Regions from separate parts of the Homo sapiens genome. Here regions 2 and 3 are each linked to region 1. The links come from fine-mapping of genetic effects on gene expression. A gene starts in region 1. Each other region holds a variant in brackets. All regions are shown on one strand. Distances are from middle to middle. Region 1 holds the start of RNFT2 (ring finger protein, transmembrane 2). Region 2 overlaps RNFT2 (ring finger protein, transmembrane 2). Region 3 overlaps RNFT2 (ring finger protein, transmembrane 2).

Region 1 (10,555 bases):
TCCAGCCTGGGTAACAGAGTGAGACTCCATGTTAAAAAAGGTTAAGATGGGAAATTCTGGCCAGGCGTGGTGGCTCACACCTGTAATCCCAGCACTTTGGGAGGCTGAGGTGGGTGGATCACCTGAGGTCGGGAGTTCAAGACCAGCCATGACCAACATGGAGAAACCCCGTTTCTACTAAAAATACAAAATTAGCTGGGCATGGTGGCGCATGCCTGTAATCCCAGCTACTCAAGAAGGCTGAGGCAGGAGAATCATTTGAACCCGGGAGGTGGAGGCTGTGGTGAGTTGAGGTCGTCCCACTGCACTCCAGCCTGGGCAAGAGCAAAACTCAGTCTTTAAAAAAAAAAAAAAAAAAAAAAAAAAAAGATGGGAAATTTTATGTCGTATTTTACCACAATAAAAAAAAATTGAAAAAAAAAAAAGATATCAACTAGGCAATTGGATATAAGAATTTGGGGATTTCTGGACAGATCTAGGCTGTTGTTATCAACTACTGGCATCAACAGCATACCTCCAGAGATCACCTGAGTATTTAAACAATGGCCCAGAGATTACCTGAGTCAGATAGAGAGGAAGGCAGAGGACGGAGTCCTGGCGCACCCCACCACTCAGGGGTCACAAGACAGAGAAGGGACAACACGCGACTGTGAGGAGGTGTCTGAGGTGGCAGAAAACACAAGTCACAGAAGTCTGGTAGTCACATGATTGCCCAGACATCCCGGCCAATAAAAGGGACTTACAACACTCAGCCTCTCTGTTTGCCTAAGGTGGCAGGTCACGTACAATTCCCTATTCTTCCCTTTTCACAGCTCCCCTGCCAATCCACTAAATGTAGAGTGACCACATAGTTTTATCAATGTTCTATTCACTTATATATTTTATTTACACACTTGAGCTTTGAGAGTAAAAAGGAGAGCTTTTTATAACCATGTCAGGACAACAGCATAACCCATTATCCTGGGTGCACCCTGGGGTGTAACCACCCTTTCTACACAACTAAGCACTCAACCTGGACTTCTAGACAAACTTATTAATGCTTTGGGTAAGATTTCCCCACCCGTGCTCCTTGCTGTTTCTCCCAGAAATTCTCACATGGAAGAAAAATGAAAGGGTGCAGTGTGTTGGAGGGGTGGAATTCTACCAATCAAGTTATGCACAAAAAGCATAAAAGGAACTGTGGGTCCTTTTGAGTCACCCAGGAGGACACAGAGCCCCCAAATTAAACGAAGGGCACCCATGCGAGGGCTGGCCGACCCTCGCCACCTATGTCTTGGTTTCCCCCACTGTAATACTGGGAACCCCACTTCTCCCAGGCCTGCTGCGAAGATGAAGCCAGCAAATGCACGCCCTCTCTTAGCTCTGGACCGGGCAGGTGAAAAGCAGGGAGGTGTTCATAAAAGCAGTCCCCACCGCTGAAGGGTCCTCAACTCGGGGTTCTAGTCCCAGCTCTGCCCTGGCCTAGCAACCCCTTCCCGCTGCAGGGACCAAGGCGGTGGGCAGGTCCCTCACCCGTGCTGAGACCGGGACAGGAATGCGCACCTCTCCCCACCCTCGGACGCCCCGGCGGCGCCGCTGCAGAAGTCGGGAGGTCGGACAAACGCGAGGAGTAAGGAAAAAGAGGAGGAAGGGAAGGAAGGAGGAAGAACGAAGTGAGGAAAGAGGATGTCAGGGAAGAAAGGGAGTAAAGGAAGAAGGAAGGGAGAGGGGGACAGAAAGGAGGAGGACGGAAGGAGGAAGGGAAGGAAGAAAGACGGAAGGGAAGGGAGAGGAAAAAGGGGAGGAAAGAAGAAAGGGAAGGGGGAGGAAGGAAAGGGGGAGGAAGGAAGGAGGAGGAAGGTGAGGAAGGTAAGGAAGGAAGGGAGGCAGGGAGAGGGGAAGGAAGGAGGAAGATAAGGAAGGAGGGGAGGTAGGAAGAAGGGAAGGAAGGAGGAAGGAAGGGAAGGGGAGAAAGAAAGGAAGGGAAGGGGTAGGAAGACAGGGAGGAAGGAAAAAAGGAGGAAGGTAACGAAGGAAGGAAGGAGAAAGTAAAGTAAGGGGGAGGAAGGAAGGAAGAAGGGAAGGGGAGGAGGGGAAGGGCGGCCACTGACCTGCTTGAAGGTGCTGCTGAGGAAGTAGACGAGCGACAGCCCGAAGACCAGGGCGAGCACCCACCTCTTCCGCAGAAGCCGGCGCCACACCATGGCCGCCAGGTTCACCATCCCGGCGCGGACGTGGGGCGCGGCGGCCGGGGCGCGGAACGCGGCAGGCCCGGGTCCCGGGCGGCATGGCCCCTACGCGCCCGGCAGCCCCATCCCTCCAGGCAGGCGCCGGCCCCGCCGCCCGCAGCCCAGTCTGCTCCCGGCAGCCTTGGGCGCAGCCCCACGTGACCCCGCCCTACGCCCCGCCTCCGCTCCGCAGCGACAAGGGCTAGTCGCGCAAGATCTTCTCACCATTGGTCCCTAAGGAACGGCGGCCTCCTATTGGTTAAGTGCCGGGAAAGGGGGCGGACAATCGCGTGAGTGCTGCGGGCGTAGCTGTGCCCGGGTCCTAGCGCCGGACCCGGCGACGCCAAGAAACCACCCAATAGGAGGCCGGAAGCATCGGAAGTCACATGCTGCCCAGGCTGCGCGGGTGATTGGCTTGGCTGGACCTGAATGATGCGGCTGTGATTGCTGAATTGTCTGGGCAGGTAAAAAGAGAACGCGATTTTTTTTTCTTTTCTCCCATCATGGTCTGTGTAGTCTCCTGCCCTTGCAGTCCCAGAGCGTTTTGCGCTGTGTGTTGGTTGCAGGGATGAAAAGCGCTCGCGACGTTGTTCCCGAAGTGCACCTGCCGGCTTCCAGTCCAAGTGATGCAGGCGATGCTCCTCTGAGTGCATTTCGGTGCAGTCCTGTAACGGGCCCCAGGGGCGCAACTTGAACCATCGCAAGCATCGAAAAGTCTCGGTGCGGTCCTTCAAAGGGACATAGTGGGATGTACAGAGCAGAGGATTAAAAAGCGTTTCATTCATTCAGATGCATCCCGCGTGCAAAAATTTATTCCAGAATTATGTACGGCCTGCTTCCGACAAAGAATCCGAAGCCTCTTCCAATACAAGCATCCGAAAGTAGAGTTTCGAGCATTCGATTTAGGAGTTAAATGTGTGGATGAGAACTTTGGAATATGAATTTTATTTTCCCCCAAGGATTTGCAATGTGGGATAATGGAGGGAGGGGCGAGAGGAGGATTAAGTTGAGATTGCAAATTCTTGAAAAATATTTATATAATGACCTTTTCTTGATATATGAAGATGCTGCTGCTGACCGGTTTGTTACCTAATTTTTCAAAAGAGAAAGGAGGCTTCACTGGCGGGTCATTTTTAATCAGTGGCCCTAGTGACACCATTGCTGCCCCCTCAAGAAGCCTGGTCAGGATTAGGAAGTCATTCAACAGCCAATAATCGTGCCCTAAACTGAAGTCAGACACCATCTGACTGATATAGACACCCTATATCCACAATATTGGCTCTGCCTCCAGAGACAAGAAGATATTCACGGAGGCTAAACCTTTTCATGGGAAGTAGATGGCCCTTATTACCTTGCTAGGGTGAAAGGTGGGACAGGGAGCAAGGGATCTAGAAAAGGGGAACTGGGAGACCCATAGATGTTTTATTCATTGAGTAAATACTTGTTGAGCGCCACTCTGTGCCAAACAGTGTCCTGGATGCTGAGGCAGAGGGGTGATCCAAGTAGACAGGATCCCTACTTTCAGGAATGGCATTTATATTCTAATGGGGAGGACAAATCATAAATAAATAAGCAAACATGAACAAATAAGTGCTATGAATAATATAAAACAGGGCAATATTACGGGGAGTCAGGAGAATGAGAAGAGAAGGCCTCTGGGAAGAGACGACATTTGCCCTGCGGGACCAAGCCCTGCCACATTTAGAGGAGAAAGTATTCCAAGGGGAGGGCACAGCAAGTGCAAAGGCCCTGAGGCAGGGACACGCTGACACATTAGAGGAACAGAAGGGCCACTGTGGGTGGACAGGAGTGGGAAAAGGGAGAATGGGAGGAAATGCAGTTGGAAACAGATGATGCTACATCAGGAAGAACCCGTAGGCTATGGACAGAGCTCGGGTTTGATTCTGATTGCACTGGGCAGCCGTTGGAGGGTTTAAAACATATTTTCTGGCTTCCCCAATCAGGACTCTTAGTTTGACAATAGGATGAAATACAATACCTTAAGAGTTTCAAAGAGGGCCGGGCATGGTGGCTTATGCCTGTAATCCCAGCACTTTGGGAGGCCAAGGCAGGCGGATCACTTGAGGTCAGAAGTTTGAGACCAGCCTGGCCAATATGGTGAAATCCCATCTCTACTAAAAATACAAAAATTGGGTGGGCGTGGTGTCGCATGCCTGTAAGCCTGTAATTTCAGCCACTCAGGAGGCTGAGGCAGGAGAATCGCTTGAACCTGGGAGGCAGAGGTTGCAGTGAGCCAAGATCGCACCACTCCGTCTTAAAAAAAAAAAAGGAGTTTCAAGGGGGGATCACTGAGAGGCTACCCAGAGATACTGAGCAGATGGAATCATCTGCTTATAGCTACCAACAATGTCCTAAGGCTTCTTAGCAGATTCAAGGTATCGCAGGGACTGTTCATCCAGGTGTTCTGTTCCATCCAGGTTTGGAGTCTCTGGCAAGCTCCCCTGACTGTGCATCCCTCTGGAGACGAAGAGGAGGGGGAGGCCTGTCCTCTCTGGGATCCATTGGTCACATCCCCCTGAGGATTCCCGAATGCCTACCTCCAGTGTCGTCAACATGGAGTTCTGAAGTCCATGTGGCTCTTCACAGTGAATCAGGTGACACGTCTCCAAGAGAATTTGCATCTTTATTACTACTTGATTAAATGTGAGAGCTGGAAGGAAGTTTTGGTTTGACCACTCCACCCCTCCCATGTAACACATGGGGAATCTGAACCCACAGAGGGGTTACTGATTTGTCTAGGGTCACAGCAAGTTAGCAGCAGCATCAACCCAGAATCCATGTCTCCTGCCAGTCCGCTGCCCACTTCACTTCATCCAGCACCTCTTGGCTGCACAGTTTACCGCGTTATCCTCTCACATGAGGACTTTCTCCACCTCTGAGTCTCATCGTCCTCCTCTGTGAAATGGGGTGATAGCTTTCCTCATGGGATAGAATGTCACATTGAGGATGGAATGGCATGAAAGATTGAAACATACTTTGGAAAATGCCAGAGAGCACTAGGGGTCTAAGATACGACTAGTGCAGGTTTGCAGTTTACAATTACCTTGGCAATCTGACAGGCAGTGGGAGTGTTGGGAGACTCTGGCTCACCCATGTGTTGGGTTTTAGGTGTTAAGGAAGATGCAGAGACGCCACAGCAGCAACACGGATAACATTCCACCTGAAAGGTAGGCATCCCTGCTTCTGTTCCATCTGAGGGCTCTAGGCTTCGGGTGGTGAGGGGCAACCCAAAACTGGATTGAACAATACCTCACCCTCAGCGTTAGTTGTTAGAGTCACACTGATGGCCTCATACTAAACATTCAACGCATAATAGCTTGCTCTTTCTTTTATGCTAAATTTCAAAGTCCTGTGTGATAGGTGAGCCACCTGACTCATTGTATCAATGAATGTACCTGTGGAATTTTGATTTATAGAGATGTCTTAGTCCATACAGGCTGCTATCACAAAAATATCATAGAATGGGTGGTTTAAACAACAAATGTTTATCTCTCACAGTGCTGGAAGCTAGGAAGTCCAAGATGAAAGCTCCAGCATATTCAGTGTCTGCGAAAGGCCCACTTTCTGGTTCACTGATGGCCATTCTTTTGCTATGTCTTAATGTGGTGAAGGGAAAGGGATCTCTCTGGGTCTCCTTTTTAAGGGCACTAATCCCATTCGTGAAGAGCCCATCTCATCACCTAATCATTCCCAAAGGCCCACCTTCCAATACGATCAAATTACAGGTTAGGTTTCTTTTTTGAGAGAGAGTCTTGCTCTGTTACCCAGGCTGGAGTGCAGTGGTGATCATGGCTCACTATAGCCTCCAAATCCTAGGCTCAAGCAATCCTCCTGCCTCAGCCTCCTGAGTAGCTGGGACTACAGGCATGTGCCACCATACCTAGCTAATTTTTAAAATTTTTTGGTAGAGACGGGGTCTCACTAAGTTGTCCAGACTGGCCTCAAACTCCTGGGCTCAAGCGATCTTCCTACCTTGATCTCTCAAAGCCCTGGGATTATAGGTGTGAACCACTGCACCTGGCATGGGTTAGGTTTCAACATAAGAATCTACACAAACATTGAGATCATAGCTCTGAGAAACAACACGGAGAGGCTAATGACATTGAAAGATGAGATTTTTATTTCTTCCATTTCTCAAGATGAAGGGGCATACTACTGCTTGCAGGGCCACCTGGGGAAGCACCAGCAATAGTCAGAGGGCAGAAAGGACCGAGGAAAAAGCATAGGCCACAGCCTTTATTGTGTTTTCTGGGGGAAAGAAAGGCAAGGCAGGGGCAATAGTTTAGGACTGGCTAGTTTGAATCATGTTGGTGGGCTCTGGGGTACCGAGGTGGTTTCTTTTTTTTTTTTTTTTTTTTGAGATAGGATCTCCCTCTGTTGCCCAGGCTAGAATGCAGTGGCACGATCTCGGCTCACTGCAGCCTCGACCTCTCAGGCTCAAGCAATCCTCCTACCTCTCAGCCTTCCGAGTAGCTGGGACTAAAGGCATGCACCACCATGCCCGGCTAATTTTTGTATTTGTAGGGACAGGGTTTTGTTATGTTTCCCAGGCTAGTCTCAAACTCCCGGGCTCAAGCGATCTGTCCGACTTGGCCGCCCAAGCTCCTGCTCGCTGGGATTATAAGCGCAAGCCACCACGCCTGGCCTCAAGGTGCTCTTTAGTTTGGTGTCTGGCCCTAGATGATTTAGGACAGGAGAAATATTGGCTGCGTGTGTAAAACTTAGATGAAGGAAGGGCCATGCAGTGACTCACGCCTGTAATCCCAACACTTTGGGAGACCAAGGTGGGAGGATAACCTGAGTCCAGGAGTTAGTTGGAGACCAGCCTAGGTGACATGAGGAGATCCTGTCTCTACTAAAAAACTTTAAAACTAGCCACGTATGGTGGTGCATACCTATAGTCTCAGCACTTTGGGAAGCCAAGGTGAGAGGATTGCTTGAGCCCAGAAGTTTGAGATCAGCCTGGGCAAAATAGGGAGACCCTATCTCTACAAAAAATAAAAACTTACCCAGCATGGTGGCATGCATCTGTGGTCCTAGTTATGCAGGAGGCAGAGGTGGGAGGATTGCTTGAGCCCAGGAGGTGGAGGTTGCAGTGAGCTATGATTGCACCACTGCATTCCAGCCTGGGCAACAGAGTGAGACCCTATCTCAAAAAAAAAAAAAAAAAAAAAAAAAAGGTTAAATGAAGCAGTGGTTGGGGTTATGGGCTCTGGATCACAAGGACATGTAAATAACTTTGGCCGTTAGTTTGGCCCTGTGATTAATAGATACCAGGTAGAATCTAAAAAAAAAAAAAAAAAAAAAAAAAAAAAAACCGGTTAAAAAACACTCATGAGCTAGAATTTTTTTTTTTTGAGATGGAGTCTTGCTCTGTCACCAAGGCTGGAGTGCAGTAGTACAATCTCAGCTCACTACAACTTCCGCCTCCTGGGTTCAAGCTACTCTCATGCCTCTGTCTCCCGAGTAGTTGGGACCATAGGCACGCACCACCACGTTTGGCTAATTTTTTTGTATTTTAGTAGAGATGGGGTTTCACCATGTTGGCTAGGCTGGTCTCGAACTCCTGAGCTTGGGCAGTCTGCCCACCTCAGCCTCCCAAGGGGCTGGGATTACAGGCATGAGCCACTGCACCCAGCCTAGAATTTATATCTATTGAAACCCAAGAGGGAACACACCTGGGGGCCTGTTCTCAGATTGGGACAGCCTCCAGCCCCAGAAGCCCTGTCCTAGCACATACATCCAAGGGGCGGGCAGCCAAGCCTTCCCTTCCTCACATCCCATACCCCCTGCGACTCTGGGGTTGGCTACAGAATCACAAATGGTATCCCCCGGTCCCAGCACTGGGACTGAGTTTTGTATGGTGCCTGCCTGTTCTGCAGGGAAGAACACGGGGCTCAGCCAAACCCCAGCTCAGCCACTTCCCACCTGTGGTGACTTTGATACATGACTTCACCCCTAGGTCTCAGCTTCTCCATCCAAAAATGGCAGGTAACAGAACTCAAGAGTTGCTTATGGGCCAGGCATGGTGGCTTATGCCTGTAATCCCAGCACTTTGCGGGGGTAAGGCAGGCTGATCACCTGAGATCAGGAGTTTGAGACCAGCCTGGCCAACATGCTGAAACCCCATCTCTACTAAAAATACAAAAATTAGCCAGTGTGGTGGCAGATGCCTGTAGTCCCAGCTACCCAGGAGGCTGAGGAAGGAGAACCACTTGAACCCTGGAGGTGGAGGCTGCAACGAGCAGAGATCATGCGACTGCACTCTAGCCTGGGTGACAGAGTGAGACTCCTCCTCAAAAAAAAAAAAAAAAAAGAGTTGTTTATGGATGAAGGAGTGAGTGTGAAGATGCAGAAACAGCATCCGGCTTGTAATAAGCCTGCCTGTTGGAACCTTTTCCGCCTCTAAAGACAACATTGTCATCTGCTCTCAAGTGAACCATGAGATCTCTTGCGGGCAGAGAGCACAGCAGGAAACTCAAACCGTGTATTGAGTGCTTATGCTGTGCCAACCGCCACATTAGCCCAGTGAGAGCACCCATTTTACAAATGCAGAAGCTGAGGCTCAGAGAGGGGAAGGAAATTACCTAAAGTCACACAGCCAGGAAGTAGCAGGGCTGAGATTTGGGCCCCCATCCCTGTGTCCCCCAGCACCTGTGCTTTGAGATAGCACATTTTGGCTGCCTAGTGTCTGAGCAGAACCACTTTTCCTCCTGGGTTGCCTCAAGCTCTGGCGCTTAAGTGGTTAAGTTGGAAGCACAGCCTCTGTCCCCCTAAGGAATATTCTTTCCCAGTCAGGCTGAAATCTCGGCTGGATGCAGGGGAGAGGCCCAGGGAAGGGAGGCCAGCTATAAAAAGCCCCTTGGTGAGTTGAGTCTTCCCTGGTTGTACTGGAGGCCCCTGAGCCCAGTGAACTCAGAGTGCTGGCAAGCTCAAGGGGGACAGGATGGCTTTCTAGGGCCCCTTGGGTGGCCACGGAGAGAGAGTGGCCTCCTCATGGACCAACATGGGTACCTGCCAGGGCTCTTGCTTTCTGAGCTGAGCTCTTTGAAGTGCAGAAAAAGCTCAAGGCCCCTTGAGGATCATAGCCATGGTGTTTGCTGTTGTTGTCATTATTAATATTATCATTATTATTATCCAGAGCCCAGTGGAGGAGGAGCGCATATTTCCTGGGCTTTTGGAGCCAGCAGGGGTGGGGCTTGGTGAGGGAGGGAATCCAATCGTGAGTTTCCTCCATTGCACCAGATTTTTTTTTTTTTTTTTTTGAGATAGAGTCTCACTGTGTTGCCCAGGCTGGAGTGCAGTGGCACAATCTCAGCTCACTGCAACCTTTGCCTCCCCGGTTCAAGCGATTCTCCTGCCGCAGCCTCCTGAGTAGCTAGGATTATAGGCATGCACCACCATGCCCGGCTAATTTTTGTATTTTTAGTAGAGAGGGTTTTTTGCCATATTGGCCAGGCTGGTCTCAAACTCCTGGCCTCAAGTGATTCTCCCACCTCAGCCTCCCGAAGTGCTGGGATTACATGTGTGAGCCACCACACCCAGCCTGCTTCAAACTCCTGACCTCAAGTGATCTGCCCACCTCAGCCTCCCAAAGTGCTGGGATTATAGGCATGAGCCACCATGCCTGGCCTCACTAGGTTTTTAGTAACATACCTGCAGGCCCAGTTTGTGCAGCCAGGGAAACCACCGTGTCCCACTGCTGTGTGTCACAGGTGTTCTGCAAGCTGTTAAATGGTTTTTCATGGATAAAAAGAATTCTGTGGTCAAATAAGTTTGGGGAACACTGGGCTTAAGCAAAGTCCATTATTTCACTTGCAGGCCTTCTCAGAGCGTTTAGTATGCCTGTTCATGTATTCTTTCAAACACTTTTTATTAAGCATGTTCTGAGTGCCAGGTGCATTGTGCCGGGTGGTAAAGATACAGTGGGGAGCAAGGTTATGGTCTTTGACCTTGTGGAGTGGAGCTCTGTCCAAAGCTATGGTTTGCAGCACTGACCACACATTAGAATCACTGTAGCGGGGGGCAGTGGGGAATGGTGGCTCATGCTTGTAATCCCAGCACTTTGGGAGGCCAAGGCGGGTGGATCACTTGAGCTCCGGAGTTCGAGACCAGCTTGGCCAACATGGTGAAAACCCATCTCTACAGAAAATACAAAAATTAGCCAAGCATAGTGGCGCACACCTGTAATCCCAGCTACTCGGGAGGCTGAGGCATAAGAATCACTTGAGCCCGGGAGGCAGAGGTTGCAGTGAGCCGAGATCGCGCCACTGCACTCTAGCCTGGGTGACAGAGGGAGACCCTGCTCAAAAAAAAACAAGAATCAC
Region 2 (10,555 bases), 110 kb after region 1:
AAAAAAAAAACCCCAAGAAACAAACAAACAAAAAAACAATCCAGGGCCACCTGCCTTCCCCACTGCCCATCAATCCACCCGATCCTATCCTTCCCAGCTGAGAAAGGGCTCCTTCTTCCTCCCCCTTCCTCTGTAGACGTTCATCCCTTTCTCCACATGCTGGAGGCAGTCCACAGCCGTGAACTCCTCAGCTGGGCCCTGGGGTAAACCTGGTTTTTTGAACCTTTTCATTTGACACCAGATTCTGTCCTCCCATTTCTCTGAGGAAGGGATTGTGAGCTCCCGGAGGGCAGGGACCAGTCCTTCATCACCCTAGTATCGCCAGACTTTCCTGTTTGGTCATTTGTCATCTGCATTCCCATTCATTTGTCCTCTCCATTGACAGAGCCCCTACTCTGTACCAGCTCAGGGCTGGACAGTAGGAGTACGATAACAACATGGCTGCCCTCATGGCGTTTACCACCTAGAGGGCAGGGCAGATGTTGACTAAGCATTTAGAACAGTGGTTCCCAAAGTGTGGCCAGGGTACCCCTGGGGGTTCCTTTCAGGGGGTCTGTGAGGTCAAAACCATTTATATAATAATACTAAGACATTATTGGCCTTTTCACTCTGGTTCTTTCATGAGTATACAGTGGAGTTTTCCAGAGGCTGCATCGCCTGCGAGGAGGTCATCACTCTGGTGGCTCATGAATATGTGCTTGTGTATTATGGGTTTTTTTTTTGTTTTGTTTCATTTTGTTTTTCAGACAGAGTCTCACCCTGTAGCCCAGGCTGGAATGTAGTGGCACGATCTTAGCTCACTGCAACCTCCACCTCCCAGGTCACGGTTCAAGCAATTCTCCTGCCTCAGCCTCCCGAGTAGCTGGGATTACAGGCACACGCCACCATGCCCAGCTGATTTGTGTATTTTTAGTGGAGACAGGCTTTCGCCATGTTGGCCAGGCTGGTCTTCAACTCCTGACCTCGTGATCTGCCCACCTTGGCCTCCCAAAGTGTTGGGATTACAGGCGTGAGCTACCGTGCCTGGCCATTATGTTTTAAATATGTCTCCGTTTCTATTTCTAAATATTTCTAATATTTCTAAATTTGTAAATATAGACAAATTTAAACCACATAGACAAAAGCTCTTTGAGGTCTTCAGTGTTTTTAAAAAATATAAAGGGGTCTTAGCACCAGAATATCTGAGAACTATTAAATTAGAAGTGTGAGAGCCTCAGTGAATGTGTTGAATGAATGAGTGAAAAAACTGCTAAATTTCATGGCTATTTCCCATTCACTTAACCAAGTCTATGTGAACAGGGGTTGTGTTGCATTCTCCTATGTAAGTACCTCTTTTGTCCAGGGTAGCATAGTTAAGTCCCATTTGGTTGGTCAATAGATATTTACTGAGCATCTGAGCAAGAACCGTACTCAGCATAAAACCAGGTTCTGCCCTCAGAAAGCTCTCAATCCAGTGGCTGGGCATGGTGGCTCACACCTATAATCCCAGCACTTTGAGAGGCCAAGGTGGGAGGATCACATGAAGCCAGGAGTTTGAGACCAGCCTGGGCAACAAAGTGAGACTCCATTTCCACAAAAAAATTAAAAAATTAGCCAGGCATGGTGGCACGTGCCTATAGTTGTAGCTACTTGGGAGATTGAAGCAGGAGGGTCACTCAAGCCCAGGAGATCAAGGCTGCTGTGAGCTGTGATCGCACCACTGCACTCAAGCCTGGATGACAGAGCAAGACCCGGTTTCAAAAAAAAAAAAAAAATATATATATATATATAGAGAGAGAGAGAGAGAGAGAGCTCTTAATCTAGTGAACAATCAGATGAATTTGCAAATAATTCCTCATGCAATGCTTTGAGAGGGGTTTTCACCAGGAAGAATGGCATAGGAGAGAAGACGCGATCAGTACTTACATTTGCAGGAGACAGTAACAGGATGGAATCGGGGCAACATCATAAAACAGGGGAGACATGATTGCTTGGCTGAGTCTTCCAAAAGAACTGGGCATGCACCCAGCTGGTCAAGATGGAGAAAGGGCATCCCAGAGTGATACTAAAGTTGGTTGGAAGGCTGTGAATAAGCCATGGGTTGAAGGTCATGTGGCACGTCAATGACATCAGTTACTCCAGGGTGTGAGGATGGGGCTGGACGGGAGACGGGCCATCATAGAGGGTAATGGGTGCCATAGTGGGAATCTGTAGAAGCTGCAGGGCTTGCTGACCCCTGGGTCCTGCCCTCCAGACCATGATGAGAATCCAGTATGGTCTTCGCGGCTCTGTGTGGACTTCTCTCCTTTCCCCAATCCCTCTCTCCCCTGCACCCCCAACTACAGCCACATCAGCTATCTTCAAGTGCCTCAAACATCTTCCTATCTCAGGAGCTTTGCACAGGAGACTTCCTTCAGCCTGGAATGTTCTATCTCTATCCCATCCCCTCTCTTCTGCCCAGTTAACTGCCAAATGTTCTTCAGGCTTCGACTCAAGTGTCCCCACCTCCAGGAAACCTTCCTTGACTACCCCTTGGATCAAACTGGTCCCTCTGTCACACACCTCCATAATACCATGGAAATCTCCTTCAGAGCACTGTCTACAATTAGGCACCCACTGTACACCATGCTAGGAATGAAGGGGTTTACAAGAAGCTTACAGCCTGGTATGGAGAGACAGATAATAAACTGTAAACACATAAGATAATAATCATTATTACTATCATAATAGCTAATAGTTATAGAGCACTTACTATTTGCCAGTCATTATTCCAAGTGCCTTCTTTTTTATATTATTGTTATTTTTTTAGACAAGGTCTCACTCTGTCTCCCAGGCTGGAGTGAAGTGGCATGATCATAGCTCATACAGCCTCAACCTCCTGGGCTCAAGCAATCCTCCCACCACTTCAGCCTCCCAAGTAGCTGGGACGGCACATGCCACCATGCCCAGCTAATTTTTTTTTTTTGTAGAGACATATGGGGCATGGGGGTGGAGGAAGTCTCGCCATGTTGCCCAGGCTGGTCTCAAACTCCTGGCCTCGAGCCATCCTCCTGCCTTCGCCTCCCAAAGTGCTGGGGTTATAGGCATGAGCCACTGTGCCCAGTTTCTTTTTTGTGGTTTTGCTTTTAAAAAAACATTTTGTTTAGATTTTTTTATTATTATTTCCTCAAATGTTTCATTTTGAAAAATTTCAAACCTGCAGGAAAGTTGCATGAAACTCTTCTATTCTTCATCCAGATTTACTGATCATTAACATTTTACATTTGCCCTTTTTTTGACATCAATTTTTTTTTCCCTAAACCAGTTAAGAGTAAGTGGTAGACATTTAGATTCTTCATCCCTAAATACTTCAGTGTGCATCTCCCAGGAACAAGGACATACTCTCAGATAATCACAATTCCACTAGCATGCCCAGGATTTTTTTTTTTTTTTTTTTTTGAGATGGAATCTAGCTCACTCTGTTGCCCAGGCTGGAGTGCAGTGGCGCGATCTTGGCTCACTGCAACCTCTGCCCCCTGGGTTCAAACGATTCTCCTGCCTTAGCCTTCCAAGTAGCTGGGACTATAGGCGTGTGCCACCATGCCTGGCTAATTTTTGTATTTTTAGTAGAGACGGGATTTCACCATGTTGGCCAGGCTGGTCTGAAACTCCTGACCTCAGTGATCCCCCCGCCTCAGCCTACCAAAGTGCTAGCATTACAGGTGTAAGCCACTGTGCCTGGCCACCCAGGAAATTTTAAATTAATGTGACATATTATTTAATATATGGTACATATTCAGATGTCTCCAGTTGCCTTCAAAGTGCCCTTTATAGCTGGCATTTTTTTTGCCACCCCTGGGACCAATCAAGACTCATGTGCTGCATTTGGTTGTCATAGCTAAGTACTTTTAACATGTTAATTAATCTTCCAATGAGGGGGTTCTATCCCCATTTTACAGATGGGGGAACTGAGGCACAGACAGGTTGCATTACTTGTCCAAGTTATACAGCCAGAGAACGGTGGAACCCATTGGTCTTTCCAATCTCCCTGCCTTTCTCTCTCTCTCTCTTTTTTTTTTTTGAGGCAGAGTTTTGCTCTCGTTGCCCAGGCTGGAACACAATGGCACGATCTCAGCTCACCGCAACCTCTGCCTCCAGGGTTCAAGTGATTCTCCTGCCTCAGCTTCCCGAGTAGCTGGGATTACAGGCATGTACCACCACGCCTGGCTAATTTTGTATTTTTAGTAGAGATGGGGTTTCTCCATGTTGGTCAGGCTGGTCTCAAACTCCTGACCTCGGGTGATCCGCCCACCTCAGCCTCCCAAACTGCTGGGATTACAGGTGTGAGCCACCGCGCCTGGCCCTCTCTCTTTTTTAAAAAATTTAATTTAATTTTAAGTTCCAGGATGCATGTGCAGGATATACAGGTTTGTTACATAGGTAAACGTGTGCCATGGTGGTTTGCTGCACCTATCAACCCATCACCTAGGTATTAAGCCCCACATGCATTAGCAATTTATCCTGATGTTCTCCCTCCCCCAGCCCCCGCAACAGGCCCCAGTATGTTGTTCCCCTCCCTGTATCCATGTGTTCTCATTGTTCAGCTCTGATTTATGAGTGAGAACATGTGGTGTTTGGTTTTCTGTTCCTGTGTTAGTTTGCTGAGGATAATGGCTTCCAGCTCCACCCATGTCCCTGCAAAGGACATGATCTCGTTCCTTTTTATGGCTGCATAGTATTCCATGGTGTATATGTACCACATTTTCTCTATCCAGTCTATCATTGATAAGCATTTGGGTTGATTCCATGTCTTTGCTATTGTGAATAGTGCTGCAGTGAACGTATGCGTGCATGTATCTGTTTATCGTAGCACTAGTTACCTGCCTTTCCTCTTGACCCTTGTGTTCTATTCTCAACCTAGAAGGCGGAGGGATCGCTTTAAACTGCAAATCATATCAGGTCACTCCTCTGCTCCAAGCCCTACCATGGGCCCCTTACTTCTCTCAGAATAAGAGCCAAAGACCTCACAATGGCCCACAAGTACCTACACCATATGCACCCCTCACCCTCCATCACTTCTGTGACCTCATCTCCCTCTCCCATCCACCCCAACAACCCCAGCCCAGCTATCCTCTCCTTCCTGTTCCTCCCGCACATCAAACACAGTCCAGCCTCAGGGCCTTTGCACATTGCTGTTGCTGCTAGAAGTGCTTTTCCCCAAGATCTCATCAGGGCTCACTCCTCACTGTCCTGCAAGTTTTACCCAAATGTCAGTATCTCCGTAAAGTTGTCCTTAACGTCCCAACCCGCCCAAGCCCTCCCTGTTCCTTCTCCCTCCTGCTTTTTGTTTGTTTGTTTTTTGTTTTTTTGTTTTTAGACAGATTCTTGCTCTGTCACCTAGGCTGGAGTGCAGTGGCACAAACTCAGCTCACTGCAACCTCTGCCTCCGGGTTCAAACGATTCTCTTGCCTCAGCCTCCCGAGTAGCTGGGACTACAGGCGCCCACCACCACGCCCGGCTAATTTTTGTATTTTTTAGTAGAGACTGGTTTTCACCATGTTGGCCAGGGTGGTCTCAAACTCCTGCCTCAGGTGATCCGCCCATCTCGGCCTCCCAAAGTGCTGGGATTACAGTCCTGAGCCACCACACCTGTCCCCTCCCCTGCTGTTTCATCTTGGTGCTTCCTACTGATAACTCAGTATTTTGGAGTCGCATTGTCTCCCCAACGCGAGTGCAGGCGCCCCGAAGGCAGGGGTTGTCTGTCTAGTCCGCTGCCCCTTCTCCTGCTCCCGAGACCGAGGCAGACGCTCAGTAAAGAGTCCTGGTGCCTGCTGATTGCTGTC[C/T]CCGCAGCACGTGTTCTGTGAGGAGTGCCTCTGCCTGTGGCTGGACCGTGAGCGCACCTGCCCGCTCTGCCGCTCGGTCGCCGTGGACACCCTGCGCTGCTGGAAGGACGGCGCCACGTCCGCACACTTCCAGGTGTACTAGGACCGAACACTGAGGACACCCAGAAGGACGCCAAGGGTCAGCATGCCCGGACCCAGCCCTGCGGGGGCTTCCTGAGAAACAGGCCTCAAGCACTTACATCCTGCCTCTTGCCCTCCACCACCTCTGACCCCAAAGTCCCGCCCCTGTCTTGTCCTTCTGACCTTCATCTTCCTCTCTCGTTCTGTGGTATAGTGCGTGCCTCCTTCCCCTGCAAAAGGGGACGTCTTCCTAACTCAGACTTGATGCCCTTCTAGATGCATCTTCCTTCTCCACTCCAAGTCAAGGACCTGGCAATACATGAAGTTCCCACTTGTTGGTTATTTTCTCTTTCTTTTTTCTTTTCTTTTCTTTCTCTCTCTCTCTGTTTCCCTCCCTCCCTCCTTCCTTCCTTCCTTCCTTTTTTTTTTTTTTTTAAAACAAGGTCTCGCTCTATCACCCAGGCTGGAGTGCAGTGGCACAATCTCGGCTCGCTGCAACCTCCACCTCCTGGGTTCAAGCGATTCTCCTGCCTCAGCCTCCCGAGTAGCTGGGATTACAGGCACCCACCAACACACTTGGCTAATTTTTGTATTTTTTAGTAGAGACAGGGTTTTGCCATGTTGGCCAGGCTGGTCTCCAACTCTTGACCTCAAATGATCAGCTCGCCTCAGCCTCACGAAGTGCTGGGATTACAGGCATGAGCCACCGTGCCCAGGCTCACTTTTTTTTTTTTTTTTTTTTTTTTGAGACAGGGTCTGGGTCTTCACCCAGGCTGGAGTGCAGTTGGCACAATCACAGCTCACTGCAACCTTGAACTCCTGGGCCCAAGCCATCCTCCCGCCTCAGCCTCCCAAGTAGCTGGGACTACAGGTGTGTGCCACCAGGCCTGGCTAATTTTTTTTTTTTTTTAATTTTTAGTAGAGGCGAGGACTTATTATGTTGTCCAGGGTGTTCTCAAACTCCTGGGCTCAAGCAATCCTCCTGTCCTGGCCTCGCAAAGTGCTGAGTGCTGGAATTACAGGTATGAGCCCCTGTGCCCAGCCCACCTGCTGGTTATTTTAACTTAGTACCTAGTACCTAGGACTTGATGGTGCAGGCTGGGGAGGAGCCTAGAGATCACTGCCTCCCAGATAGCCCAGGCCTGCAGATTAGAATCCCTGTGAGCCCTGTGAAGTATTTTTTCTTTTCTTTTCTTTTTTTTTTTTTTTTTGTTGTTGTGAGACAGAGTCTTGCTCTGTTGCCCAGGCTGGAGTGCAATAGCACGATCTTGGCTCACTGCAACCTCCGCCTCCCGGGTTCAAGTGATTCTCCTGCCTCAGCCTCCCGAGTAGTTGGGACAACAGATGCGTGCCACCATGCCCAGCTAATTTTTTTTTTGTATTTTTAGTAGAGATGGGGTTTCACCACGTTGGCCAGGCTGGCCTCAAACTCCTGACCTCAAGTGATCCACCTGCCTCAGCCTCCCAGAGTGCTGGGATTACAGGCATGAGCCACCACACCTGGCCCAAAGTATTTTCAAAATACAGTTGTTGGGCCCCACCATATACCTGTAATGACTTAAGGTCCCAAATACTTCATGCGCAGCAGGCAAAGCATGCAGCATCCTGCTTGGATTACGTGCTGTCATCCTCACAACAGCCCTGTGATGGGGGAGGTACTGTTGGGTCCCCTGTTTTATAGATGAGGAAACTTGGGCACAGAGCTTGGTGCGGTAACTTTCCCAGGGTCACCCAGCCAGCATGGGCGGGCCAAGTTTCCAACAGAGGCCTGGTACAGTTTCAGAACCCACATCTAAAAAAAAATAAATTTATTAGAGATGAGGTTTCTAATAAAAATCCAGGTTGTCCAGGCTAGATTCAAACTCCTGGGCTCAAGTGATCCTCCCTCCTCAGCCTCCCAAGCAGCTGCAACTACAGGCACACTCCGCTATCCCCAGCAGAGCCCGCACTCTTAACCTCCGCACTGCTCTGCCCCTCAGACATTCCAGGCATGGGGCCCAGCAGACACGGTCTTCTAAAAGCACACGAGAGGCCGGGTGTGGTGGCCCATGCCTGTAGTGCCAGCATTTTGGGAGGCTGAAGCAGGCGGGTCACCTGAGGTCAAGAGTTCAAGACTAGCCTGGCCAACATGGCAAAACCCCCTCTTTACTAAAAAATACAAAAATTAGCCGGGCGCGGTGGCGGGTGCCTGTAATCCCAGCTACTCAGGAGGCTAAGGCAGGGAGAACTGCTTGAACTCGGGAGGTGAAAGTTGCAGTGAGCCGAGATTGCACCACAGCACTCCAACCTGGGTGACAGAGTGAGTGAGACTCTGTCTAAAAAAAAAAAGAAAGAAAGAAGGGAGGGAGGGAGGAAGGAAGGAAGGAAGGAAAGAAAGAAAGGTCAGCTTTGGCCCAGATGTGGTTACCCCTTGGTCTCCTGTCTTTATGTCTTTCTCCTCTTCCTATTCTGTCATCTCCCTCACTTAAGTCTCAGGCCTGTCAGCAGCTCCTGTGGACATTGCCATCCCCTCTGGTAGCCTTCAGAGCAAACAGGACAACCTATGTTATGGATGTTTCCACCAACCAGGGTAGTGGCATGGAGCACCGTAACCATCTGTGCTTCTGTGATCTCTATGACAGAGCCACTTCTCCACCTCTGAAATGTTCCCTGCTCTGAAATCTGGCATGAGATGGCACAGGTGACCACGCAGAAGCCACCAGAATCTTGCCTGCCCTATTCCTCCTCCCAAGTCTGTTCTCTTATTGTCAACCTCAGCACAACAGGCTGGCGCCAATGGCATTACAGAGAAAGCAATCTGTGTGGCTAGTGGGCAGATTACCATGCAAGCCCCAGGAGAAATGGAGGAGCTTTGTAGCCACCTCGCTGTCAGCCAGTATTAACATGTCCCCTTCCCCCTGCCCCGCCGTAGATTCAGGACATTTGCCCCTGTGTGCCACCAAACCAGGACTTTCCCCTTGGCTTGGCATCCCTGGCTCTCTCCTGGTACCCAGCAAGACGTCTGTTCCAGGGCAGTGTAGCATCTTTCAAGCTCCGTTACTATGGCGATGGCCATGATGTTACAATCCCACTTGCCTGAATAATCAAGTGGGAAGGGGAAGCAGAGGGAAATGGGGCCATGTGAATGCAGCTGCTCTGTTCTCCCTACCCTGAGGAAAAACCAAAGGGAAGCAACAGGAACTTCTGCAACTGGTTTTTATCGGAAAGATCATCCTGCCTGCAGATGCTGTTGAAGGGGCACAAGAAATTGGAGCTGGAGAAGATTGATGAAAGTGCAGGTGTGTAAGGAAATAGAACAGTCTGCTGGGAGTCAGACCTGGAATTCTGATTCCAAACTCTTTATTACTTTGGGAAGTCACTCAGCCTCCCTGTAGCCATCTCCAGGGTGACGGAACCCAGTGTATTACCTGCTGGAACCAAGGAAACTAACAATGTAGGTTACTAGTGAATACCCCAATGGTTTCTCCAATTATGCCCATGCCACCAAAACAATAAAACAAAATTCTCTAACACTGCAAAGAGTGAGCCATGCCTGTTAACACTGTAAAGAATGTAACATGTGGGGGACACACAGGGGCAGATGGGATGGTTTAGTTTAGGATTTTATTAGTGCATGCCCTACCCTCTGGGGGAACGTCCCATCTGAGGTTTTCTTCTCGGTGGGGGGATTTAACTTCTGTCCTAGGGAAAACAGTGTCTGATGAGGAGTGTTTCCAACACAGGCTACATGAATTCCCCTATACCAGTGCGAAAGCAGCCAGGAGTCCCCGTTGGAAAAGAACAATGCCACTCTCTTTTATGTATCTTGGTTCTGCAACTCATTTGTTGTAAGTAGGGTTAATCGAGTATCAGGTTCACAGTATCCTGCCCTTATTATTTTATGATTCACTGACTCAAGTTCCACGAAGTCCTTAGAAATGGACCTCTTCATGTAAAATATCTTGAGAATAATAAATGTGAGGGAATAAGAAAGGCAAGCTTTGGACACAGATATGATAGGTGCATCAGCTTCGGAAGAGAAGAATGATGTGCAGAGTGTTAGGAAGACATCCGGGCTGCTGAGACTCGGGATTAGAAGAAAGAGAGGTAAATAAAGTGGGTCCTGGAATCTTTTAGGACTTCTGCTGTAGGACAAACAGCTGCCTTTGGTGTTTTAATGTCTCCCAAAGTACCCTTCAGCCAATAAATACCATCTGTTGGTGCAACTTGTGTTTGTGGTCTTGATTTTCCTTTCACCTCTTGAAGCCAAGTGCAACTGTCTTAGATCAAAGGAGAAGAAGCCCTTCGCGGAGTGGGTGGTTGTCTTATGTTGGTTTCTCCTAAAGCAGATCCTGTTCAGGTGCATGTGATTTATTACAGCAGTGCTCCCACGAGAAACCAGTAAGGGAATCATGAGTGAAATAGAACAGGGAAGGGAAAGAAGCCAAGCTCTGGCGAACTCTCAGTCTTAGCCGGATCCCCCAGGGAGCTCAGGAGCATAAGTTTCATCTCAGAGTTTGTCCCATCCCACAAAATACACACCAATTGATACTTGGCACTGGGCTGATGGGGGGACTTCCTGCACTTCAGACTCTCCCCTAAGAGGCTCCAAGGGGAAGCCTCTGAAGGCCCCAGATACCAGCAAAGCACACGAA
Region 3 (10,555 bases), 85 kb after region 1:
CCTCTCTCTCCTCACCAGTTAACAGGGGCAAATAATTTCAGTGTCCATCTCCTGGGATTGTCAGAGTCTGGGGACAGCCTGCAGGTACTAAGTGTTCAACCGAGAAACTCATCACTAAACTAGAAGCCAGCCCTAGTCCTTCTCTCTTTCCTCTTGTAATCCTCTCACTTGCTGGGTCTCCCACTCTGTTCTTCCCTCCCCTGCCTCTGTGTTTGAGCTTTCTCATCTAAGAAATGGGAACGCGTCATAACTACCTACAAGAGGAGCAATTGGTGTGCCGTTCCTGGCCCCTGGTAAGCGCTTAATACGGGGGTTACTCTTCCCCTGTTGCCTTCTCACCTGGACTCTGCCTCCTGGGTGTTCTTTCTCTTCTGGCCTCTAACTCTGCCATTTCTCTCTTCCTTTCTTCTGCCCCCAGCCCCATTTCCCCCTCCTGTTTCTATCCACTTCCCTCCTTCCTTCCTGTGCTCTTCTCTAGCCTTGCTTCTATCCCCAGTCCTGCCCCGTCACACTTGTTTCTCCCACCCCTCCTGGCCGGGCGCTGCTGTGAAGTCAGTGGTCCAGCCCCGATCCCACCCCCAGCACTGGAGGAGACCCAGCACGGGCCTCAGCTCATTAGCCCAGCCCTTCAAGCCTCCAGGTCGGTGCTGGGTCTGCAGGACTCTGCCAGCTGTGGTCCCCACAACCCCACCATCCTAACAGGCCCGCAGGCCACCTTCCCAGGACAACATGTCTTTGTTTTCAGTTCCTTGTCCTGGCCGCCCACTTGGGAGCAGGACTTGTGGCCCCCATACCCTGGGGCTTTTGGGAGCCAACAGGCAGTCCATCCAGGGAAGAAAAGCAAGCAAGGAAAAGTCTCGCAGGAGGCTGAGGGCCCCCTCTGGCCCAGGAGGCTGGAAGCAGTCCCTCCTGCTTATTTTTCCACATGTGGAAGGAGGGCTTTGAAATGCAGATTCCTGGCCCTGTGCTAGCTTGCTAGCTTTAGTCCTTGAAGCTATCCTCCTTTTTCTGACTACTTGTTTCTTTTTTTTTTTTTTTTTTTTTTTTTTTTTTTTGAGGCAGAGTCTTACTCTGTCGCCCAGGCTGGAGTGCATGGAGTGCATGGAGTGCAGTGGCGCAACCTCAGCCCACTGCAGCCTCTGCCTCCCGGGTTCAAGCCATTCTCCTGCCTCAGCCTCCAGAGTAGCTGAGATTACAGGTGTGCACCTCTACACCAGCTAATTTTTTGTATTTTTGGTAGAGACGGGATTTCACCGTGTTGGCCAGGCTGATCTTGAACTCCTGACCTCAGGTGATCTGTGTGCCTCGGCCTCCCAAAGTGCTGGAGTTACAGGTGTGAGCCACCCTGCCTGGCCAACCTCCTTCAACCAGAGGAACCAGCCCTCCTCTCTGTCCCCTTAGTTCTGATGACACCGTCAGTCACAGTGCTGCCCCCATGGTTGTGACCAGGACTGACCAATCATAGAACCCCATGACCTCTTGGCCTCAGAGCTTGGTTCCCAGAGGGAAGCAGGGCCATCATTTTGGCAAATGGCCCCAGGAGAAACAGGGTCTGTCTCTCTCTCTGTCTCTCTCTCTCTCTGTGGCAATTCCAGCTGTAAGAGTGTTGGCTTGGGGCTGCCAGTGGCCATCTTTCCTACTAGATACTGTCAGATCCAGCATTTTCCAGCTGCGTCACCTGGGGCAGGTTATCTAACTTTTCTGTGCCTCCATTTCCTTATCTGTAAAGTGAGAGTATTAATAGCACCTGCCTCATAGTGGTGTGCACAGAGTGGTGCCTAGCACATAGTTAACAGCTAAGTCACCATCATCATCATCACCACCACTACTACCACCTGCAGTGAGTCCAACCTTGGCAGGAGAGAATGAAACTTACACACAAGAAACAGAGACATCTGAGCTGAGAGATGGGGAAGAAGAGGAGAGATAGAAAGAGAACTGGCTGGGTGCAGTGGCTCACACCTGTAATCCCAGCACTTTGGGAGGCTGAGGCGGGCAGATCACCTGAGGAGTTCGAGACCAGCCTGGCCAACATGGTGAAACCCCATCTCTACTAAAAATAGAAAAATTAGCCAGCCATGGTGGTGCACGCCTATAATCCCAGCTACTTGGGAGGCTGAGGCACGAGAATCACTTGAACCCAGGAGGCAGAGATTGCAGTGAGCCAAGATTGAGCCACTGCACTCCAGGTTGGGCGATAGTGCGAGACTCTGTCTCAAAAAGCAAAAAACGAAAAGACAAAAGGAAAAATACAACTAGAGAACTAGAGAAGGCTCTTTGACTATATTGTTTGACCTCCTGGATCCAGGAATCCTTGAAGCCAGAGCCACCCCTGCCTTCCCAGTTTTGTGACCTAATACATTTCCTTCTTTGTGGAAGCTACTTCATGTTAGCTGTCACTTATAGCCTAAAGTGACACCAGTAGTTGTTTTAACAGTGCATAGAGGCCCAGAATGGCGGAGCTGGGTCAACACCCCCATCACACAGAACACTGAGGCCCAGAGAGGGAGAGCAGCTTGCCCAAAGTCACACAGATACAGAGGATGCGCACCTAGCTACCTGACTTCAAATGCCACACTTTAACCCTGTTTTCATGTTATAAATGGTGACATATAAAAATCAGGCCAAGCGTGGTAGCTCACACCTGTAATCCCAGCACTTTAGGAGGCCGAAGTGTGTGGATCGCTTGAGGTCAGGAGTTTGAGACCAGCCTGGCCAATGTGGCAAAACCCTGTCTCTACTAAAAATATGAAAATGAGCTGGGCGCCGTGGCGCATACCTATAATCCCAGCTACTCTGGTGGCTGAGGCAGGAGAATTGCTTGAACCCGGAAGGCGGTGGTTGCAGTGAGCCGAAATTGCACCACTGCACTCCAGCCTGGGTAAACAGCAAGACTCTGTCTAAAAAAAATAATAATAATAATTCTTCTGCTTTCCTGGTCCACTGCCATCCTCTTTGACCAGACTTAATTTATTTTTTCATATTTCCAGGCTGCTAACAGTGCTGCAGCTAACATTTATTGAGCACTTACCATGCGCCAGGCACTGAACTCAATGCTTTACACACATTTGCTCATTCATCCTCCCAACAACCCTAGGAGCCAGGGGCTACCATTAGCCCCATTTTACTAGCGAGGAAACTGAGGCACAAAAGGATGAAGTGACTTGCCCCAGGTAACTCAGGAAGAGACAGAATCAGAATTCAAATTCAGGTCATCTGACTCCCAAGTCCATGCTCTTTGCCATTGTGCTTGCTCAGAATCCAGGGCCTCATCTCTGAAGAGGCAGAGCTAGGATCTGCACCCAGGGCCACGTTTCTTTCCCAGGTCTTTCCCATGGTATTTCTGTGCCCAACATGGCAGTCACTGGCCAACCCTCCCCGTCTCACTCCTACCCTCATCATTTTCTAGAACATTTGTTATGTATAGACTCCCATTCCTAGTATCTTCAGCATTAGAGCTCTCTATGAGCCATGCCTATGGGAAACCCAGCTGTTTCAAAGCACAAGGCCATTTACTTTGCCCCCTCATTTGTCCATTACTCATTCAGCAAATATTTCTTGGTCACCTACTGAGTCCCAAACGCTTTCTATTAGTTAGGATTGGAATCAAATAGTAACAGCAAAGAATCCAAAATAATAAGACTTAAATTTAAAAAATGTATCTCTTTCTCATGTAAAGGCCAAAGATAAGCAGCCCGAGCCTGGGAGTATGACACCTTCCAGCCCACTGCTTCACCAGCTCTAGGGTGTGGGATTCCCCCTCATGGTCCAAGATGGTAGCAAGAGCACCAGCCATCACATCCAAGTTCCAGACAGTAGGATAGAGAAAGTGGGGAAGAATAAGGTGAAAGCTTCTCTGAAGTTTCTACATGATGCTTATAATTGTGTTCATGGTGAAGACCCTCTTCCTGGCTTGCAGAAGGTTGTCTTCTCACTGTGTCCTCAAGTGGCAGAGAGATCTCTCATGTCTCTTCCTATAAGGGAACCAATCCCATCATGAGAGCTCTACTCTCATGATCTAATTACCTTTCAGAGGCCTTATCTTTAAATACCATGACATTAGGGATTAGGGCTTCAACAAAGGAACTTGAGGTGGGCACAGTTCAGTCTATAGCACCAGCTGAGTAGCCTTAGATGGTACTTTAGTTTTTGTTGTTGTTGTTGTTGACTTGAAAAAACCATTTAATTCTCACAATTTTGCAGGTCAGGAGTTCAGTCAGGACACACCGGGTACAGCTTGTCTCTCCTCCCCATGATATCTGCTGGGGCTGGACTGTCCAAGATGGCATCTTCACTCCCAGGTCTGATGCGTCAGCTGCAATGGCAGGAATGGCCTTCTTAAGGTCCTGTATCTGGGGCCTCAGTTCTCACCGTTGGCTGGTTTTCATGTTTCTCCTCCAATTAGTCTCAGAGCTGCTCCCCTTCCACATGTCCTCTTCACTGGGACTCTCCTTATAGCTTGGGCTTCCCACAAACATGGTGGCTGGAGGAGGGAGAACAAGCAAAAGGAAGGAAGTGAAAGCTGTCTGATCTCTTAAGGCCTAGGCTTGGAAGTCCCAGATATCACTTTTGCCTTAATTCTAGTTCACCTTAGTTCATTTGAACCTGCATTTTCTCATCTCTAAAATAAGGCAGCAGTAACATAATGGCCACATTTCTGGATTATCATGAGGGCCAGTACTAGCTGTATCATGTACTGGGCCCTTCTTATGTACCTGTGTTTTAGATTTATTGGCTTATTTAATCCATAAGATCACCTTGGTGTGTTGAATACAGGTTTTACTGACATGTGAGAGCCAATGGTTACATTTTCATGAAATTTGCAAACAGTTGTTAAATCATTGGTAGCTTGAAGCTGGCCTTGTGGGAACATTTATACCACAGAAATTGGCAAACACACAAATCAGGGCCTTTTCTTTCCCCCAGAGACCTAGTTTTCCAGCACAGCACTGCATGCATATCTATATGTATGTGT[G/A]TATGTATGTGTGTATTCAACCCCATTTACAGATGAAGAAACTGAGGGTCATAGAGGTTGAATTATTGTGCCAAATCAACCAATTTAATAGGTGATAGATGTGACCTTAGAATCCCAAATCCCACGCCTTTAAACCACTAGGCTGTCCTGCCTCCACAGATGAAAAAATGTGTATAAAAGAGATTCGTAAACAGGCAAAGCTGTATAAATATTATTCATCTTGATACAGAAAAAAAAAGGTTTCATCTCTGTCTGTGCATTTTTCATACATTGAAGCTGCTGACAGATACTTGATTATGCCTCTCCTCCCTTCCTCCCCACCCCCACAAGTCTTCAAATCATCTTTCCCATGTAGGTGCGTTCTTCCAAAAAATTCTCCTCTCTGTTCATTTCTTCTGCTTCTCAGCATCCTACTCTCCTTCATTTCCCACCCGCTTCTGGAGCCAGCCCTCTGTTGTTTCGATGTTTCCCATTTCTCTTATTGTCCCACCCCTCATCTTGGCAGTGAGGAAGTCGGAATAGAATCCGCCTTCCCAACTTGACACTCCCACCCCCTTTATCTGAATCCAAGCAGAGAACCGTCCATGCCCAAGCACGTCCTGCAACAATTGCTACCGTTTCCCCTTCACGGTGGCAGGGAGGCGAGACAGCTCATAATCTGATCGTATTCCTTGTTCTCTGAAGCCCCAGAGAAACCACACATCCCATTTGGTGGTCGTCAGAAATAACATGCTTAAGAAACCTGGAATTATAAAACTGCTTAATTAGGGAGAGATGGTTTTGCTGGGATATGCCCAGTTTTCCTTGGTGGTTTGATCTCCTTTTCAAAGTGGCCCACCCCCGGCAGCTAATTGCTACCTTTAACGGGGTGCCACATAGGCTCTCACTCTCCTAAATTTATTTGCTGTGACATCAGTGCTTGCTTATAAAGAGATATTCTCTCTTCAGCGTTTCAACTCTCCTCCATCAGCAAACTGTAGGAAGTTGACTTGAGTAATAAGGATGGAATCTTCAGCTTCAAGAGGTCCTCCTTTGTTACATGAGCACCTACTACATGCTAGATGCTGGGAATATACCCAGAGTCAAATTATCTTCTCCCGTAAGGGGCTTACAGTCCAGTGGGAGGGATGGATAGTAAAAATAATTTTTTAATATTGTGAAAAATGCTTTGAAGGAGTGATTTAGGGGCTGGGTGTGGTGAATCATACCTGTAAACAGCACTTTGGGAGGCCGAGGCGGGTGGATCACCTGACTCAGGAGTTCGAGACCAGCCTGGGCAACATGGTGAAACCCTGTCTCTACTAAAATACAAAAAATTAGCTGGGTCTGGCAGCAGGTGCCTGTAATCCCAGCTACTCAGGAGGCTGAGGCAGGAGAATCGTTTGAATCCAGGAGGCGGAGGCTGCAGTGAGCCGAGATCATGCCACTGCACTCCAGCCTAGGCAACAGGGTGAGACTCCATCTCAAAAAAAAAAAAAAAGAAAGAAAGAAAGAAAGGAGTGATTTAGGGGAGTCTTCAAAGGTGTACATAACAGGAGCACCTGATTCAATTAAAAAGTCAGGGAAGGCTTTTCATAGGCGGTGACAGTTAGCTGAGACCCAAAAGATGAATAGATGTTAGCTCAGCAAAGAGTAGAGGGACCACTATTCCATCTGCAAAGGAAGAGCTTGGTGTCCTTAAGCAACCGAAAGACAGGGAAAGAAGCTGGTATTAGAGCCTTCTGGGAAATCCTGGGGATGTGTTAGAATCCCCATCGTGACTTATCTAGATTCTGATAGAACAGACCACAGGTCAGAAAACTACAGGCTACAGGCCAAATACGTCCTGCCACTTGTTTTTATAAATAAAGTTTTATTGGAACACAGCCACACCCATTCACTTACCTATTGTCCACAGCTATTTTCCTACTGTAGTGACAGAGGTGAGTAGTGGTGCCACAGACCGTATGGCCTGCAAAGGCTAAGTACTCACTACCTGGTTATTTGTAGAAAAAGTTTGCCAACACTTGTTCTAGAGCTGCCCAATAGCAAGTGGGAAGTTTGGGATTTGGCCCAGAAACCAGCCTGCAGCTCAGGGGCCTGAGAATTGGAAGATCCAAAGACAGTGACCAAAACTAAACCTAAGGTGGCAAGTGACAATCCTAGGTCTGATCCCAGCCTCTTTGGTTCCTGGGGCTGTGCTCTTGACCACCAAGCCAGACTGGTTGTTGAGACTGGCCTGCAAGGAAGAACAGAGAGAGGGGACCAGAGTCAGCCAGATGCCAGCAGGCAGGGGCTCCCAGAGACACAGGGACGTTTCATGGGGTAGCCGTGTCCTTACCTGTCATGAGACCAGGCAGACGAAGCAGGAGGCTGCCCACCAAGATGGCGCTCAGACCAGTGACCATCTTTTCCTTCACCTCTTGGCTCTGGAACACCCTTCCTCCCTTACCTGCCCTCATTTCTTCACCAGCTTGGCTCTTATTCATCCATTAAAGTAGTGCTTCTCAAACTTGGATGTGCACTCGGGTCACCTGGGGACCTTATTAAATTGTAGATTCTATTTCAGGAGGTCTGGGGTGAGGCCTAAGAGCCTGCATTTCTAACCAGCTCCCAGGCGATGCTGATGGTGCTGGTTCATGGCTCACACTTTGGGTGGCTGGAAAGATAACTTCTCTTAGACTTTGTTGATCAGTTTCCCCTCCACATCCCATGCCTCAATTCTGGGGCCCACTCACATTCACCTCTAGCAGAGTTCTACCACACTGTATTATAGTAGTTTGCTTAGTGATGGTCTTCCTCATTGGGTAGCAAGCTTCCTGATGAAGGGATGAGGTCTTAGTTATCTTAGTACCTCCAGAACCTGGCATTGTGTCTGGTGCATAGTAGGTGTCCAGAAATGGAAGCAAGGATGGGAGGGAAGAAGAAAGGGAGTGGGCAAGGAAGAGAGGGAGGGAGGGGCAGAGGAAAGGGAAGGAAGGCAGCATCAATGGATAAAAGGCAGGAAGGGAGGGAAGGAAGAAAGGAAATACAGATGGGTGGAAGAAAGAAAGGTAAGGAAGGAAGGAAACAAGAGTGATCTAGGGGTGCACTGAATGTAGGGAAGAGTGACAAAAGCAGGTTAAGGCCAGGCATGGTGGCTCACATCTGTAGTCCCTACAGGGGACTCAGGAAGCCAAGCTGGCAGGAGGATCACTTGAGCCCAAGAGATGGAGACCAGCCTGGGCAACATAGATAGACCCCATCTCTAAAACACACAATGTTTTAAGTGGAAAAAAAAAAAACTGCAGGTCAAGACTCGCAGTTGAGAGAGGTTGGACAGTTTAGTCCAGGGTAAGATGGAATATGCAAGAGTTGAGAGACCATGGGTGAGAGCAATTTGGGAGACATGAGGGAGGCATGGGGCAGCTGAGGGTGGGTGGTTCAGGGAATGAAAGTTCAAATCATGGATATTCTGCAGATCTTGGGGTCTGCAGCAGGATATGGACAGGCTTGGTTAGCCCTGGCCATACACTAAGTTGCTGTCCATTGGTCCAGCATCCATCATGCCCTTGTCCATGTAAAACAAACATGACGGCCACCCCCTACATCTCTGTACTCCAGTCACCCCCCATCTTCCCAAAAGTTCCAGAGGGAAACCAGCATTTCCCTCCAGGGGATGTTTCTGGGGCTCAGGGACTGGTGGGAGTCAGGAGGGGAAAGGAGGGCCCTTTGGGAAACAATGGCCTCACAACTGGAGGTGGCGAACTAGTCACAAAAATCAGGCAGGGGGTGAGTGATGATTGGATGCCCTTTCTTGGTCCTTGGTAGATGTGGGTGTACGTGCTCCAAGGAATCCTCTTCTGAGTGACATGTGCCCAGCCCATCAAGATGGAATATAAAAGTTGGCTATAAATCTCTGTCCACATGCCACGCATACGATGTAATCTTGGCTCACTTCAACCTCCACCTCCTGGGTTCAAGTGATTCTCATGTAGCTGGGATTATAGGCACGTGCCACCATACCCGGCTATTTTTTTGTATTTTTGGTAGAGACAGGGTTTCACCATGTTGGCCAGGCTGGTCTTGAACTCCTGGCCTCAAGAGATCTGTCCACCTTGGCCTCCCAAAGTGCTGGGATTACAGGTGTGAGCCACCATGCCCAGACTCATTTCCCCTCTAATTTAAACATATCACATGCTCAGTATAAAAAATCTGGAGAGAGCATAAAAACACAAAGAGAATGAGGATTTTTTTTTTTTGCATTCTCTATTATTTCCATTTGGAACAATAATATGAGCATTTGCTTGGGTCAAATGATATCTTTCATCAGGATGATTTCTTTTTTAACTTTTAATTTTGAGATAATTTTAGACTTAAAGAAAAGTTGCAAAAGTAATGCTGCGAGTTCCCATATACCCTTCATTCCTCTTCCCCTAATGTTGATATCTGATATACCAGAGTCCAATTAGCAAGGGCAGGAAATGAACATCAATACTGTTACTACTAACCTAAAGACCTCATTCACATTTTGCCAGTTGCCCCATTGACATTATTTTGTTTTTCAATTTTTATTGTTGTTTTTTTGTTTTCGAGACAGGGTCTTACTCTGTCACCCAGGCTGGAGTGCAGTGGCACAATCATAGCTCACTGCAGCCTCGAACTTCTGGGCTCAAGCAATTCTCCCACCTCAGCCTCTCAAGTAGCTGGGACCACAGGAACTCACCACCACTCCCAGATAATCTTTTAATTTTTTGTAGACACAAGATCTTGCTCTATTGCCCAGGCTGGTCTTGAACTCCTGGGCTCAAGGGATCCTCCCACCTTAGCCTCCCAAAGTGTTGGGAGTACAGGTGTCAGCCATTGCACCTGGCCTATTGACATTTTTTGCTAGTATAGGATTGAATCAGGGCTGGGCGCGGTCGCTCACACCTGTAATTTTAGCACTTTGGGAGGCTGAAGTGAAGTAGGTGGATCACCTGTGGTCAGGAATATGAGACCAGCCTGGCCAACATGGTGAAACCCCATCTCTACTAAAAATACAAAAATTAGCCGGGCATGGTGGTGTGTAATCCCAGTTACTTGAGAGCCTGAGACAGGAGAATTGCTTGAACCCAAGAGGCAGAGGTTGCAGCGAGCTGAGATTGTGCCACTGCACTCCACCCTGCCTGGGTGAAAGAGCAAGACTCCGTCTCAAAAAAAAAAAAAGAGAGAGAGAGAAAGAGAGTATAGGATTGAAACCAAGATCCCATGTTACATTATTTGTCACGTCTCCTTAATTCTCTCCAACCTCACACTCCTTGGTCTTCCCTTTGTCTTTCATGATCTTGACATTTTTGAAGAGTGTTGGGCCCCTTCAACTTGGGGCCAGGTGCAATGGCTCATGCCTATAATCCCAGCACTTTGGGAGCCTGAGGTAGGAGGATCCCTTGAGCCCAGGAGTTTGAGACCAGCCTGGACAACACAGCATGACCTCGTCTCTCTACAAAAAAAAAAAAGAGAGAGAGAGAGATAATATCCTTCAACTTGGATATGTCTCTTGTTTTCTCATGATTAGATTAGAATTTATTGCTGAGTTTTGGTGAGAATACCACAGAAGTGATACTGTGTCTTTTCAGGACA

What was found.
Region 2: its variant is fine-mapped to the expression of RNFT2 in cerebellar hemisphere (GTEx, PIP 0.98).
Region 3: its variant is fine-mapped to the expression of RNFT2 in whole blood (TOPMed, PIP 0.96).

The regions. Positions count from the first base shown.
Region 1 is chr12:116,735,700-116,746,254 of GRCh38, forward strand. RNFT2 (ring finger protein, transmembrane 2) reads left to right here and starts at 2,616. Exons shown (of 11, transcript NM_001382266.1): 1 at 2,616-2,671; 2 at 4,646-4,822; 3 at 5,337-5,395. The coding sequence starts at 4,799. SPRING1 (SREBF pathway regulator in golgi 1) reads right to left here and starts at 2,370. Exons shown (of 5, transcript NM_024738.4): 1 at 2,091-2,370. The coding sequence starts at 2,201. RefSeq lists enhancers at 912-1,870, 2,639-2,898 and silencers at 2,059-2,108, 2,189-2,448.
Region 2 is chr12:116,843,506-116,854,060 of GRCh38, forward strand. It overlaps RNFT2 (ring finger protein, transmembrane 2), which reads left to right. Exons shown (of 11, transcript NM_001382266.1): 11 at 5,809-10,126. The coding sequence ends at 5,943. Among named protein-coding and RNA genes, the nearest start is that of HRK, 33 kb to the right of the region's middle. The variant C/T (reference allele first, on the strand shown) is at 5,802.
Region 3 is chr12:116,820,780-116,831,334 of GRCh38, forward strand. All of the region lies in intron 7 of RNFT2 (ring finger protein, transmembrane 2), which reads left to right. Among named protein-coding and RNA genes, the nearest start is that of HRK, 55 kb to the right of the region's middle. The variant G/A (reference allele first, on the strand shown) is at 4,976.